2 linked regions of the Homo sapiens genome follow. The protein of the gene in region 1 purifies or fractionates together with the protein of each later gene. This does not show direct contact. Each region holds a gene or a part of one and is shown on either strand. Other genes may lie near its edges.

What was found. Proteins that work in one complex are often made in the same cells at the same time.
Region 2: the proteins of VRK2 (region 1) and MAP3K7 purify together in Homo sapiens (pull-down; 2 studies listed by BioGRID and IntAct, with this or other methods). This does not show direct contact.

What each region holds. Positions count from the first base shown.
Region 1 is NC_000002.12:58,083,133-58,088,452, forward strand, and holds part of VRK2 (serine/threonine-protein kinase VRK2), read left to right. Parts: intron 1-956; coding exon 957-1,006; intron 1,007-1,748; coding exon 1,749-1,818; exon of another isoform or gene 1,819-1,867; intron 1,868-3,206; coding exon 3,207-3,294; intron 3,295-5,208; coding exon 5,209-5,314; intron 5,315-5,320. UniProt on the Homo sapiens protein: Serine/threonine kinase that regulates several signal transduction pathways.
Region 2 is NC_000006.12:90,576,696-90,581,600, reverse strand, and holds part of MAP3K7 (mitogen-activated protein kinase kinase kinase 7), read left to right. Parts: intron 1-4,905. UniProt on the Homo sapiens protein: Serine/threonine kinase which acts as an essential component of the MAP kinase signal transduction pathway. Plays an important role in the cascades of cellular responses evoked by changes in the environment.

The DNA of each region.
Region 1 (5,320 bases):
AATACTAGTTCCACCTTTTTTCCTTTCCCTTTCCTTCAGATATCATCCAGACACTTAACACAGTGCCTGGCATATTCTAGCTTCTTGATAAATATTTTAGCTATTTAAATGAGTAAAGGAATGAATGGATGGAGAGTGAACAAATGAACAAATGACGAAGTTTTAGTCTTTTGCAGTACAAATAAATATACATGTAAATTTATTGAGATTTGAAAACAATCTTTTAATAATTTAGGTAATGTAGAGGAAAAGATTAATTTGTTTTAAAATGTGAACACTGGAGTTTTTAAAAGTAGGGTTATACCATCTGAACAACAAATGGAAAATAAGAATTAAATGAAGTAAGGTAACTTGAAATGAATTTATGAGATATGTATTCTTTAATGTAAAAGTAATTGATTAGCAGGTTCAGAAGAAATTTTTAAAGACTTTATTCTCATTTTAACCTTGCTTGTTCTAGAATTTTGTCAAGTATAAATTGTTTTGAACTTTCTACTTAAATTGAATCGATTTTTATTTCTGAATCATTATGAGTTCTAATTTAGTGCAATTGAATCAATGGATTTTACTGTGTATTATATATTGGCTTTAATGCCATATATCTATAAAATATTTCCCCCCACATTTTGGATCTATATGATTCATATTGTCTATTGATTCTGTATTTAAATATTTAAATATGGTTTATGATCAAGTGTATGGGCTGTGATGTCAGGCAGATTTGAGTTTCTGTCTCTAATATATTACCTCTTAGTGAGCAATTTATTCAACGTCTCAAACTTCAGTAGCATCTTGTATAAAATGGAGATGATTGATTCCTACTACCATAAAAGGTTGTTGGGATGACATAATAAACTTACATATGTAAAATGCTTAGCATAGTGTTTGGGATATGGTAGGTATTCAGTAATTGGGAATAACTATTTTTCTCCATTGTGTGTTTTTTTTGTCTGCAGCTTTCCCCACAAATAAACCAGAGAAAGATGCAAGACATGTAGTAAAAGTGGTAAGTGTTGCTCATAGATTTGTATTTCACATATATTTGACTTTTTCCTTTTCTGCTTTAAGAATGTTTTTCACGTTAATTTTTGTAACTATTGCCTTATCAGTAAACCTAATGTTATCATCTGTTTTGACGTTGTTAAAACATTAAAACTGGAGAACCTTTGTTTTTCTGTATTGCCAGCTATTACCCTGGTGTGTTATCTATCTAGCTATTCTTTCTCTTTCCCTCCCAAATGCCCTCCCACCCTCTCCACCTCTCTAATCAAGATGGTAAGGTCCTTAAAGGCAAGCATAGGGTTTTATTTCTTTTTGGTGTCCCCTGTACCTAGTATAATGAATGAAATATAGTAGACCATTCAGTAAAGGTATCATGTGTGAGTGGACCACAAGGAGAGTTTGCTGTGTATCACCTGGATGTATATGTTGGTATACAGTGAGTGTTGTATATGTTTATGTATACAGTTCTCAGTGCTTCTAGTAAGTGTTCTCTGTAAGAAAACTACTTTTATGTGTAAGACTGTATAGGGATAGTGGTACAATATGTCGTTTAAAAATTAGATTCTTCAAGTTTATTTAGTGTTTTCTGAGATTTTTAGTGGAAATCTGGTGCCTATGTTTTATAAAAAGTGATTCAAGTACTATTATATACTACATATATATGTTCATATTTTCACAGTTGAAATAACAATTCCATCTTTGGGATTATTTTTTTCTAGTAAAATTAATTATTCTTTTTTTTATAGGAATATCAAGAAAATGGCCCGTTATTTTCAGAACTTAAATTTTATCAGAGAGTTGCAAAAAAAGACTGTAGTAAGTAAAATTAGCAAAGCAAGCTACTTCCATATATGTGCTTGCTAAAGTGAGTGTTGATATTTTGGTCTTTTTCTGGCCTTCTGGAAAATTCTTTTCAATAGAAATTTTATTGTAAAGTGATACAGTTAACTGTTACAACATATAAAAGCAAGACAGATGGTATACAAATCTTGACATGACATACATAATGGGTTATATATTTTAAGTCAAAGTTGTTTCTACTACTTTACATAAAATGTTAGGTTGTTAATCTAAGCTACCAAGAGTTCCCTAAGTGTAAAAGATAGTAGAATGAAATTATTTCTTTTACAGTAAACCATTTGGATAGGACGGCTATAAGGAAAAAACATTAAAATGGGAAGTAGATATATGTATAAAAAAAGAACGATTGTAGAATGGATTGGGGCAAGGTGTGTGGAAATGTGAAAATGATTAAACTTTAAGATGTTTAAGAAAATGTTAGAAACTTGAATGCTGGAAAATTAATTGGAGCTGGATACCAAGTGTAAGAATGACCAGTTAGAAGACTTGAATGGGAAATGAATATAAGCAGAGAGGAAAAATAACAGCATTTTATAAATGTGATATAGATGGGCTAAGAAAAACATTAAAGAAGTAGACAGGAGTAATGACTGTATAGTCAAGGTCCTTTACATCATGTTTAAGAATAAGAGTGATGGGTCTGACCTCAATATTTAACTTAGTTTTTCTTAATAAAGTCTTCTAAACATTAAGACTGTAATCTTTACTAATTGCTTAAACTATGTCACAGTGACAAATAGAATCCATTAAACTTGATTGTTTATCAGTAGAGCTGTCTTAAACATAAAAAACATAGGCTAGAGTCATGAAAAAAATGATGAAAGTTAACTTTATTTAAGTGGATTTGATTTTTTGTAAACTAATCAAAACCAGTTTTTGTATAAAGTAATTTCAAAGTAAGATGGTTTTTCTGCCCAATTTCTGCTTTTTTTTTCTTTTTTTTTTTTTTTTGGTCCATTATGGTTTTAAATCTTGAAGTAATAGGGAAGAAAAAGCCATCTCTCTACTGATCTTTTGGTGGTTAACATATGTTATATTTAGAAATTTAGCTAGTATATAAGATAATGAATTCTTTTTATAGATTGAAACATTAATATATATGGTATCAATATACAAAGCCTATGACTTGTTTTTATTGATTTAATTTAAAAATTTCTAATTTTTTGTTAATTATAGTGGTAACAGTTTGAGGCCATTAGATAGAGATGTTTGATTGAAAAAAAATTATCTTCTAGGAAGATCTAATTACTTTTTTGGTTAGCTAAATAAATTTGTCTGTAGAAAGGTGACAAGTATCTTTTCAAATAACATGAATCTTTTTAAAAATAAATTTGTCTTTGTAGTCAAAAAGTGGATAGAACGCAAACAACTTGATTATTTAGGAATTCCTCTGTTTTATGGATCTGGTCTGACTGAATTCAAGGGAAGAAGGTAAAATGGAATTATTATAATCAAATATTTCTTTATAACTATTCCTTATGTGGTCTATGAGTTAACTATTGCCATGTAACAAATTACCAAAACATATTGGCATATAACCACAAACTTGTATTGTCTTAGTTTCTGTGAGTGAGGAGACTGCAAGTGGCTTATCTGTATGATTCTAGATCAGGATCTCTAATAAGGATATGTAGTCAGCTGTCTGCTGGGTTACATTCATTTCAAGGCTCATCTGGGGAAGTATTTGTTTTCAGGGTTCCTCATGTGGCTACTGGTAGGCCTAAGAAGATCTACTTCTAATTTACTTATGTGATTGTTGGCAGGCCTTCTTACTTCCTGATCATGTGGGTCTTTGCATAAGCTACCTGAGTGTTATGAAAAATAGCTGGCTTTCTCTAGAGCAATTAATTGGGGGACGGGGAGAGCATGCACACAAGTGCATTCAAGAAGGAAGTCATCGTTTTTTGTAATCTAATCTTAAAAGGGATATTATCGCTTCTGCTTTATTCTCTTTGCTAGAAGCTAGTCACTAGATAGATCCATTGGTCCTGAGAGAGGAGAATTCAGTTCTATCTCTTGAGGAGAAGCACAACAAATAAGTTATAGAAATATCTTTAAAACCACCAAATATGGCTAGTCCTATATATAATTTATTAATAGTGTTTGAAAAAAGAAAAAAAGTGTGTCATTTTATATTTACCCTTTTGTGCCAGAGACTTTTATATACTTTATCTTATTTTGTCCTTTGAATAGCCTGTTAAAATAGGTGATATTATTTTTATTCCATAGATGAGAGAATAAGCTCAGATGTCAGTACTTTGTTGAAATGGTCTCTAAATGCTTTAAATTTAAAAAAATGAGCAAACAGTAATCTTGAAGTAAAGGACTGCCACTGGGGGACTGAATGGCTGATTGAATCATGATACATCCATATCATGTCATATGTAGCCCATTAAAGAAGTCCATTAGAGCTATACTAGTTGCCTTAGAAGGATTTTGATGAGATACTATTGAAAAAAGTAAGATGGAGAAAATACTTATAATATGATCACATTTTTGTAAAACAAATTCCTAAGTGTGTGTGTTTGTGTATGCATGCATAGATATAGAATAGGGGCTGATGTGGATATATAAATGAAGGGAAGGAAAGAAGGTATGGAAGGTGCCAAACAGAACAGAAAAGGAAGAAGTGCACTTAAAGACATGTTTATAAATGTATAGAGACGGTATATATGATCTTATCAAGAAACAAACAAATATAAAATTCATGTGGCTGGGCACGGTGGCTCATGCCTGTAATCCCAGCACTTTGAGAGGCTAAGGCAGGCGGATCATGAGGTCAAGAGGTCGAGACCATCCTGGCCAACATGGTGAAACCCCGTCTCTACTAAAAATACAAAAATTAGCTGGGTGTGGTGGTGCATGCCTGCAGTCCCAGCTACTTGGGAGGCTGAGGCAGGAGAATCGCTTGAACCTGGGAGGTGGAGGTTGCAGTGAGCTGAGATTGCACCACTGCACTCCAGCCTGGTGACAGAGCGGGACTCTGTCTCAAAAAAAAAATCAAGTGTGTACAATAATTTGTTCAAGGCCATATGGCAAGAAAGTCATGGAGTCAAAATGAATTGCATTCAGTACTATCTAATTTAGAAAGATTTTTTCATTATGTAAAACAGTGTGAATGGTTCAGTACAGCATTCTCTTATAGAAAATCAGCTGCAAAGTAAATATTGAGCAGTTTCTGCAAAAGAATAGCAGAATTATGAACGTGCATTCATTCTCTAATGGTTTAGATTGCATTATACTTAGTTGTTAGGTTGAGCGTAATTTTTCTTGTTTCAAATTAAATAGACAGTTTCAAGCATTACTTTCTCAGGATGATCTCTTTTTGATGCTTTTTTCTTACAGTTACAGATTTATGGTAATGGAAAGACTAGGAATAGATTTACAGAAGATCTCAGGCCAGAATGGTACCTTTAAAAAGTCAACTGTCCTGCAATTAGGTATCCGAATGGTAAGA
Region 2 (4,905 bases), on another chromosome or scaffold:
GGTGAGATGTACTGTGGCAGGTATTAAAAGACTGCATGAAACATTCAGAAGAAAGTTTGAATAATCAAAGCTTTACTTTTATGTTATCAAATCCATCTTGTCAGCAGATGGCAGTTCCACTCTGCCACAGTTTATTAATAGATATTGAAGTTCTAACATAGTTGGAGGCTCCAAGTCCTAACTAATAAATGTATGATCTATGCTTGTTCTGTCTTGTTCCGCATTTCCAGCCAGAACAATGCCAGCATCACCAGGGGTCCATTCAGATAGTTCATAGAACAGGGCCAAATGAAACTGACAGCTGTAGTCACTGAACTAAAAATAACATGAATTCAGAACAATTAAAAGAATTATTTAATAATAAATTAAGAGCACAAAGGCATACATCCTTTTCCATTTAGGTTAGGTGTGTGTTTGGTTGTTTTCTTTAACATGACTTGTCTGAAGGAATGGAGTCATCTTACATCATAAAGAAATTAATTTTTAAAGGAATTTCTTTAAAAATAACACACAAACACACAAAACCTGATTTTTGTTTTTGTGCCTTTCAATAGTAGTTGCATGGAAATGTTCTATATACCATCTCATATTCTTCTGTATTTTTTATTAAGAAATTAAATTTAAATCTACTTAATTGTATGAGACTAAAGTTGTAGACCCAAAACAAAGAGGTTTCAACCATAGGGGGAGAAATGCTTATCATAAAGTAATTAATCAAAAACATTTTGATTTAGAAAACATTCATAAATTTAGAAGGAAATATTTCCAAATTGACCTCCCTTTTAAAACCAAAGTCCTTTTTGCATTCCTCTGTTTTTTACAAATGAAGGATTATGAAGAATATCTGAAATATTTATTTGTATGTCACCATTTTAGTTGGATGTGTGTGATGGGGAAATACTTGTAACTTGATATGTTCTCTTTTTTACTCTTGATGAAAATTCATCTTTGGGGAAAAAACAGTCATTTAAAATAATGTTGGGCTAGGTACGGTGGCTCACACCTGTAATCCCAACACTTTGGGAGGCCAAGGTGGGAGATTGTATGAGGCCAGGAGTTTGAGACGAGTCTGGGCAACATAGTGAGACCCTGTCTCTATAAAAAATTTTAAAAAACAAAAAACCTAATTGTTAATTACAGTGTGTCAAATAAACTGTATTATTCAGAAAAGAATACGGTTCAGAAAGCACGTTTGATTTGTGAACTTGGACTAGAAATTTGGTAGTAAATAAAAAGTGGCCTTCTTTCAGTGGTTTACAACTTGAATATTAAGTTTTTTCATTGTTTACCTCAGTTGCCAGTATGTCTCAAGAGTGGCCATCTATGCCACTTTTTTTCTGTTGATCTACCATATGTCAAGAAAAATATCAAATTTGCTTTCTGTAGTTTGTAACATTGGCTCATTCCTTATCTAATAATGTACATAATCTCCTTATGTGTTTTTAGGCTTGGCCTTTGCAGTCCAGACATACTATTATTCTACATCTGATCTTCTCCACGATTTTATGTTCTTGATTAATACAATAAGGAAATTTGTTACCAAGATATTTGCATTTGAAACATTTTCTTAGAAATATGTGATATATTTTTTAAAAATCTATACACATGTAAGATTTTCCCCAGTCAGTGGAGTGCTGTTTTACATAGCCTGAGAGGTGGAGTGCAGACAGTAATGAACTTTCTTAACCAGCGTTTCCTGTTGGAGCGGTGGTGTCCACAATTTTTTGTTTGTCTGTCTCCCACTGGTAAAACAAAACACTTTCTATTTTGTATACTCAGTTTTCAGTGTGTATGTATGAAGTCGGTATTTTTAAACAATGGGAGATGAAAGGTTTCATACTATCATTTGATCATGGCTCAAGTTGCAATAAGTACTTTCTAAATAAAACCTTTCTAAAATGTGAGAATTGACTTAATTAAAATGAGATAATATCTGTAAATCTACTTAACTAAGGTCAAGTAAACTACAATATACACAAGTGAGGGACTGATAATGGAGTCAGTATTTGACATATTGAACTTAATAAGCCTGTAGGACCCCTTAGTCTCAAAGGCAGTTTTAAATATATCTTGAGCTTGGGCAAAAAACCTGGATGGGAGAGATTTGAGAGTATGAATCCATGAGATTAGAGAACAGATTCAGAAACAAAAGGGCCAAGGACAGAACCCTGGAAAGTAGCAACATCTAAGGTTTGGACAGAGGAAGGAAGAATCAGTGAAGGAGGCTAAAATAGAACTCTTAAGCAGAGACAGGCAGAGAAGGGATTGTTGACAGCCATCTTTGGAGACTGCCATAAGCCCTTTATACACAAGCCTTCTATTAACCCAACTTCACTCTTTTCTTAAAGGAGATTAGGGCTTTTTAAAACCCCCTTCTAAACAGCTAAAATCTGATTCGAATATAATCTTTTGAAAAGTTAATTGTTGTTAGTTATCATACTTGCTGCCTTTGAGTAGCATTTTTCTCTGTACCAGGCACTGGACCAAATCCTGGCAGGCCTCTGTTTTGTTGGCACCATGAAACATACCTGAAAGCTGACTCTGATTTACTAATTACATGATCCTTGAATAGGTAACTTCAGTTCTTGGAGCCTTGGTTTTCTTCTCTCTAAGGTAGGAATAAAAAATCCTATATATTCATGGGTTTATGGTGACACTCAAACTCCATCATATTTGTAAGAAAGAGCTTTACAAGTTGTAATATATTGTTAAATATAAGGTTGCATTATCGTTATACAGATAATAAAATTGCATTTCTTTAAAATGTTATTTCTTGAAGAAAGGAATGAGAAGTATATTGGAATGCCCTGGGAAGCTTTTTTTATGCTACGTAGCACCTTCTGCCACCTCTAATTCCCATTCAGACTTCTCCCTTAGAGAGCTAATATCAGAATGGGGGGAAGGAGAGCAAAATATACCAGGAAACAACTTTATCCATTGTATATATCATCTGATTATTCTATCTTCTACTCTTATGGATATATGCTTATACTCTTTTTTGTTTAAAGCACAAAACTCCTGTCTCTGGCCAGGTGCAGTGGTTCACGCCTGTAATCCCAGCACTTTGGAAGGCCAACCCAGGCAGATCGCCTGAGCTCAGGAGTTCAAGACCAGCCTGGACAAGATGGCAAAACCCCGACTCTACTAAAAATACAAAAATTAGCTGGGTGTGGTGGCACAAGCCTGTAATCCCAGCTACTTTGGGGTGGCTGAGGCAGGAGAATCACTTCAGCCAGAGAGGCAGAGGCTGCAGTGAGCTGAGATCGCGCCACTGCACTCCAGCATGGGCAACAGAGTGAGACCCTGTCTCAAAAAAACAAACAAAACAAAACAAAACAAACTCCTGTCCTCCTGCCGGTATTTCTTACTTGTTTTTAAAAGTTAAGAAATGTAACTATTTTTCTATAAACTACTGTTTAATTATGAGTCATTCCTCTTTTCAACTCAGTAGAGAAAAGCATTTAATCTTGCCACAACAAGGATAATTTCCATGTAATACTTACCTCTTTTATGTATCTTTGTACTCAGAAATTTCAAGATTAATTCGGTTATTTCAAAATTCAGTCTTCCCCCATAAGGATTTTCCTTTTCCCTTTCTCCTGCCCAAGATGACATATGGGTGCTGTGGAAAGCTTCCACAAATAATATAAACAGCAAGGGAGAGCTCTCTGGTCTGTGTGATGGCTTCCACTGAAATATCTTGCCTTATTATCTGTTGTTAATGGATTAGCCTTGAATGCAGTGATTTTCAAACATTGAAACTACCTGGAGGGCTTGGTAAAACATGGATTGCTTGGCCTTACCGTCAGACTCTATAATTCTGGGTTGCACCCTGAGAATTTATATTTCTAATAAATATCCAGGTGATGTTGATACTGCTGAACCGGAGACCACACTTTTAGAGCCACTGGCATATGCTTTCACTGTCCTTATATCTGCTTTCCTTCTGGAACGTCTTTTTCTTTTGGCTTCTCTGACTCTCTCCTAGTTTGCCTGCTACCATATTGACTGTTCCTTCCTGTTCCTTGCCCATTCCTTCTCCTCTCTTGTGATCTAAATGTTGAACTGCTTCAAAGCTCAGTTCCTCTACTCCACTATCTCCATATTATTTTTGGTTACCTCTTCCAACTGATTGACTAGAAAAACTGACTACATGCTAATGACTCCCAAGTTTGTATCTCTTTGTCTGACTTCTCCATAGATCCTCTCACTCACGTTTCTACCTTCTTACTTGATATCTCCTCTTGGATATCCAGTAGGCATCTTAAACTTCATATGACTAAAACCAAACTCTGAGTTATTAAAAAAAAATCTGCATCATTCTTATCCCTCAGTAAACTGTTGTCCAGTCTAGGTGTTTTCCTTGATTCAGCTCTTTTCCTCTACACCTGTCCTGCCTGGATGCAGAGCATCAGCAAACCCTATTGACTCTACTTCTAAAACATTTCCCAGATCTGCCCAGTTTCTGCACTACCATTGACCTTGCCCTCGTAGCTATTGTTGCTTGTTTGGACTGCTGTAATGGCTTCCTAATGGGTCTCTATTTACATATCCTAGCTTCCCTACAATCCTTTCTTTAAGAGCTATAATGATTTTGTTTAATGTCACATACCATCCTTACTTCCTTGAATTTTTTCAGTTCCTTCACATTGCACTTAGACTGAAATTCAAACTCCTTTTTATGGTAGGTAGAGCCGTTCAGGATCCAACCTCTGCCTGTCCCTCCAGCCTTACCTTACAATCACTCTTCCCTTCCTCCACTATACACCAGCCACACCAAACACTCCCAAGTATTTCTCTAAATCATCACTAAAATGTCACCTTTCTCAGTGAGGCCTTGAGTGATTACCTTGTCTAAAATTGGAGTGAGGCAGAGTGCATACATGTGTGTATACACACACAATT